Regions from separate parts of the Homo sapiens genome. Here region 1 is linked to region 2. The links come from fine-mapping of genetic effects on gene expression. A gene starts in region 2. The other region holds a variant in brackets. All regions are shown on one strand. Distances are between the middles of the regions.

Region 1 (2,794 bases), 290 kb after region 2:
GCTCCCCCTGCCCTTCCTTCCAGACCCTGTGGGCTTCTCTAATAGGGTCAGGATTGCAACGCTGTGGGGTCCACGAGGAACCCCGAGGCTTTTTGGGTCAAATTCACATAGGCAACAAACAAGGCAGGAATCTGCAGCAGGAGGTGCTGAAGCTCAACTCTGGTAGGGTTTTGGCTTCTCAGGTCCTCTGTGCAGGCTCTGGCCCTTCATGCCTTCCCCCACCCATGACACACAAGCTTCCTCTGGACTGCCTTTTGCCTTGCACTGTCCCCAGCACCACTCCACACAGCACAGTGCCATCCCCTTTGCCGCTACTCTGCTCTCAACACGGTCTCCTCCTGCCCACATTGTGCTGTTCCAGACGCCCTCCAACCATCCTCTTCACCTGAGTCCTTGCAGCCAAACTTGACACTGGGATCGCAGACGTGGGTCACTCCCTCACAGCTCTTCTCATCGCTGGAGTCCATGCAGTCAGTGTCCCCATCGCAGCGCCACCGCAGGGGGATGCATAGTCCATCCAGCCGGCACTGGAACTCATCAGTGTGGCAGCCACCAGGGGGCCTCGTGGCTGCAGAGGGACAGTGGAGGGCCTCAGGAGGGAGGGGTTGCCCAGGTCAGCCCTCCTCATCCCTGTGCCCTGCCACCCCGGTAAGCCCAGCCTGGGGATATGAGCAGAGGCAGGCCTGGAGAGTCTGCCAAGCTTTGCTGACACTCCTTGGAAGCACCAACTCAGTAGTAGAGTCAGGAGGCATCACACCTCCAAGGGCCCCACAATCACCTCATCTAATCCCCCCATTGACACCGGAGATCTCAGCTGGAGAAGCAATTTGCTAAGGCCTGAGCCCAAATGCCCACCTCCTTAGCCTCTATTTCATTCATTCATGCCACAAATGTTTACTGAGTGCCTCCTGTGTGCCAGGCGCTGTCCTGGGGCCAGCACTGAACCAGACAAAGTCCCTACCCTCATGGAGCTTAGGTTCTAATGGGGAAGAGAGACAAGACATAACCCATAAATCTAGACTGTAATTTCAGGTATTGATAAAGCTATGGAGATAAAGCTGGGTAGAAGCTGAGAGGGATGGGGGTGATCTGTCAGGTAAGATGGTCAGGGAAGACCTCTGGGCAGAAGGAATCTGAGCAGAGGCCTGCATGAAGAGCGAGTGAGCCCAGAGGATCCCTGGAGGCACACTCCAGGCAAGGGGAACAGCCGCTGCAAAGTCTCATCT[C/T]CGAGATAGGACTACGCCAGCACTTCAGAAAACAGCACACAGGCCAGGCGCGGTGGCTCACGCCTGTAATCCCAGCACTTTGGGATGCCAAGGCGGGCGGATCACGAGGTCGGGAGATCGAGACCATCCTGGCTAACATGGTGAAACCCTGTCTCTACTAAAAATACAAAAAATTAGCCAGGCGTGGTGGCAGGCACCTGTAGTCCCAGCTACTTGGGAGGCTGAGGCAGGAGAATGGCGTGAACTGGGAGGCGGAGCTTGCAGTGAGCTGAGATTGCGCCACTGCACTCCAGCCTGGGCGACAGAGAGACTCCATCTCAAAAAAAAAAGAAAGAAAAGAAAACGCCACAGCTGCCCGGGAGGCAGAGCTTGCAGTGAGCCGAGATCACGCCACTGTACTCCAGCCTGAGCGACAGAGGGAGACTCCATCTCAAAAAAAAAAAAAAAGAAAAAAGAAAACGCCACAGCTGGAGTAGAGTGCAGGGGGAGGGGAGGGCAGGAATGCAGGTCAGAGGGGTAGGGGTGGGGGCCCTGCAGGCCGTGCAGAGGGGCTTGGCATTTGTTCCAAGGGTGCAGGGAGCCAGTACAGGCTGGAGGGCAGGGCCAGGGCATGATCTGACTTATGTTGTCAGGATCACTCTGGCTGCTGTCCTGAGATCTGACTCAGGAGGCCAGGAGAGGAGCAGGAGCACTGCCTGGTGGAGCCCCACACTCATACACTCATGCTGCCACAGACACCCCGCTCCTCCCCCTTCCCTACCCTGGACCCAGCTGATGCTCTCATCTCATGCCGGGACTTTCAGCAGCAGTCTCTGAACTGATTTTCCTTTCTTGGGGCCCCTGAACCTCTTCTCAATCTAATCTTCCTCTAGGGCTGTGTTCCGAAATCACCTCCTACATCACAGCACCTTCCGGCTTGGAAATCCTTCAAAGGTTCCCAGTGCCTCCCAAATCAAGCCTCTCACGATTTACACCTGCTGTCATCATCTGCCCCCTTTGAGGACAGCCTCATTCCCCACTGTCCCTGCACGAGCCTTTCCCTCGGTCTGAACGGCTCCACCTGGCCCCACTGTCACCCTACGGAAGTGCTCAGTTTCACCCTCTAAGTCTTGACGACAGCATTCTCCGGACCATGCCATCCCCACTGGAAGACCCTCCCTCCTGTCCATTTACCTGCAGTCTAAACACAACTCCTCCTGAATGGTCCCAGACCATCCAGCTCATACCATAGTTAACAACTGCTACCAATAGTGACACCCTGCTCCTCCACGCCAGGCCTCACATACCTCAGCTCATTTCATAAAGGAGGATGCCCAGGCTCAGGGGAAGCAACTTGTCCAAATTTGCCCAGCTTATCTGGGAGCGGCAGGGAGCTCTTCTCACCACACCACACAGCCTCCAGAGGCCCCTTCTCAGAACCCTAAGGGATATCACCTGTGCCCCTCACCCTCCCCTTCACAGAGATAGCCCTGGAGACGCAATTACTATTTCCCAAGCTTCCTGTGGCCTTCTCTGTCCTCCCTCTCAGGGCAGGGCTCAAGGTGGGCACTCAACGCTGTCCAGTCTTC
Region 2 (2,794 bases):
TCCCCTTTCCGTAATCCTGTCCCGAAAGCTAGCTGCCCAGTGCTGATTGTTTCGGGGTCATGGGACCTGAAAGAGGATTCAGAGCGGGGAGCAAGGGCAGGCAGGGTGGTCTGAGCCAGAGGAGGGGCCTCGATCCCCAGCTCCCGTTTGGGCGGGGTGCCAACGGGGATACACAGGCTGGCAGTGGCCAGTGGTCCCGCCCAGCCCCGGTAGGGGTCTCCCTGCGGCTGGCTCCCGCTGCCCCGGTGGTCCTGAGGTCAGAGGGTCAAGACAAGGTCTCCCCGGCTCCTCCTGAGCTCCTTGCCCACAGCCCTTGGGACTCAGGAGTCCAAATTGCATGGGGTCATTCTAGGGCCTTCACTAGACCTTGGACAGCCCCCCCCCGCCCCAGCCCCCTTCCAAGTCCAGAAGACACTCCTTTCCCCTAAAGCACAAGCATCCACTGGCACATCTGTCACAAGACAGGTCAAAGGTTCAAGCCTGGCTGGCCCCTAGTGGCTCTGTTGCCTCCCACACACCCGTCCCCACCCCACCTGGAGCTCCCTCCTTTGCAGTCCCCACCTTTCAGAAACACTGACATCTTCCTACCCCACGCGCAGACACACACCTGGGGTTACCTCTCTACAACGCAGACCTCCAGCTAGCCATCCCTCCAGCCTCTTAAACTTAACCGCATGAAAGTAAGATATTTCTAATATATGGGAGAGGCGGAGACAAAGACCCACGGTTCCCTGAGACAGAGATACACAGACTGACAGAAGAAAAAAAGGGAAGAAAAAGAAGATACAGAGAAAGACACAAGTGAAAAATCTGGAGTTTCTAATGTCTCACCCCAGGCTCTCCCACCCCTATTTTGCCTCTATGTCCCGGGTCTGGGATGAGTCCCTAAGAAGCTGAGCATCCCCTCAGGCCCCCTCCCCCACTGCTCCCAGGTGGTCCCCCGCCTGCCCCCCCTTCTCACCTCTGTCTGGGCGCTGGGCTCGGGATGCGCGGTCCAGGGCTGGAGTCTGGGCTGGGGGGTGTGCGGTGGGGAGGGGGGGCGGAGAGGGCCACGGCAGCGCAGCCTCGATGCCACCCCCACCCCCCCAACCTGGCCCCCAGCCCTCCCGCCGGCCCAGCCCGCCGGGCCGCAAGCCCGGACCACCCGCGAGAAGCGCAAACTTTTTTTTTCCCTTTTGCAAAAACTTTTTCTCTCTCCAGCCGCTGGCGCGCCGCCGCTCTTCCCGCTCGCCCCTCACCTCCCTTCTATTTCCCTCCCTCTTGCCGTTCTGGAGGATGAGGCGGGGTAGCTGGAAGCAAGAGAAGGGGTGCCGGGCTTATTGCACCCCCAGGACCCCCAGGATCCTCCCCCTCCCTTGAGGGACCCTATACTGCTTACGCCCCCCCCCCCGCCCCGGCTGAACACGCTGCTGTTGGTGAGTACTAAATCCCGGCTTGGATTTCTGGATCGGCTGGCCCCAAAGAGGCCCCGACAACCAGATTGAGGAAAATATTGCGGGGCAGGGGGAGAAGTTCAACCGAGAACGATAATAGTGGAGGTAGGGTAGTCGCCTTTGGTTGGTGCTAACTGAGCATTCTGCCATCCTGTGGTTTATCTGCAGGCCTCACCCTTTGGATGGAACTTGCAGCGGCCGGGACAGAGTTGCGGTTTGGGGCAAATCAAGTTGGGTTGGGGGCTCTGGAAGAAGGTGAGGAGTCTATGGAGCATAAAAGCAAGGAGCAGCGGCTGAGGCTCTGGGTGCAGGGTGTGGTTCACGAGGTCACCAAGGAGCCCTGGGACTGAAGCCCCTTTCCCTAGAACCCCGGCTCTACGTCTCGAAGTTCTGGAGGGTGCCGCCCCTCCGCACCACGTCACTGCAGGCTCTAGCTGCTCTTCCAGGCTTTCTGCTCCCTCTGCTGGCCGTTCTCACACATGACACCCGCTCGGAGTCGAAGCAGAAGAGCTGGGGAACTGAAGGAGGAGCCCAGTTGAAGGAGGAGCCCCTCACTAAAGCCCACTTAAAAGCCCAGGAGGTGGATATGTGAGCTCTGAGAAACGGAGAGGCAGAGGTTGCTATGCCCAGCGGTACTGCCTGACAGGGAAGTGCCCTGCCTCTTTAGATTTGCATTGCCATCGTGACCGGATATAAGGGAGGGGCAGCATTTCAGTCTCTGATTTTTATGAGAAAGAGGAGGAAGCATGACAAGGAAAAAGGGCACCCTCTCCCCTTTTTTTCAACCCCACAGGCAGACCTCCCACATCCTAGCTCTGCTTCCAAGAACCACCCCCTTGGGTGTGGAAGGTCAGTGGGTTAACTGTTCAGTCTGAGGGTCAAGGGGGAAAAGAAAAGGTGAAGGTAGGGGGAGATCTGGGACTTTGACCCAGGCTAGTTATCCCCAGAGGGTCAGAGACCCAGCTCAGTCAGACCAGACTAATGGGCACTGAAAAAAAGGCACCCCACACATGCTCCTGTCCCAGCCTCGAGCCCCTTCTTCCAGAGGAGCTATTTATGTATTTATGTATTTATTTATTTTTATTTGGGACGGGGCCTCACTATTTGCCCAGGCTGGAGTGCAGAGGCTATTCACAAGTGTGATCATAGCCTCGAACTCCTGGGTTTAAGCGGTCTTCCGGCCTTAGCCTCCTAAGTAGCTGGGACCACCGGTGCCCAGCAAGAAGAGCTCTCTTAGAACACCTTACTTTCTTCTCCCCACCCAGTTCTATAGACCAGTGAGTCTCAAACTTTTTGGTTTCCTCTATACTCTTAAAAGTCATTAGGTTAGGCACAGTGGCTCAGACCTGTAATCCCAGCAC

Evidence for each region. PIP is the estimated chance that this variant, and not a neighbour inherited with it, causes the effect. A credible set is the group of variants that fine-mapping cannot tell apart.
Region 1: its variant is the best candidate, but not a certain one, in a credible set for the expression of GLI1 in blood mononuclear cells (TOPMed, PIP 0.55).

What each region holds. Positions count from the first base shown.
Region 1 is chr12:57,170,942-57,173,735 of GRCh38, reverse strand. LRP1 (LDL receptor related protein 1) reads right to left here. Exons shown (of 89, transcript NM_002332.3): 21 at 386-568. Among named protein-coding and RNA genes, the nearest start is that of MIR1228, 22 kb to the left of the region's middle. RefSeq lists a silencer at 405-618. The variant C/T (reference allele first, on the strand shown) is at 1,227.
Region 2 is chr12:57,458,369-57,461,162 of GRCh38, reverse strand. GLI1 (GLI family zinc finger 1) reads right to left here and starts at 1,378. Exons shown (of 12, transcript NM_005269.3): 1 at 962-1,378. LOC124902947 (a long non-coding RNA gene) reads left to right here. Exons shown (of 2, transcript XR_007063335.1): 2 at 1,602-2,794. RefSeq lists enhancers at 1,650-1,699, 1,710-1,789.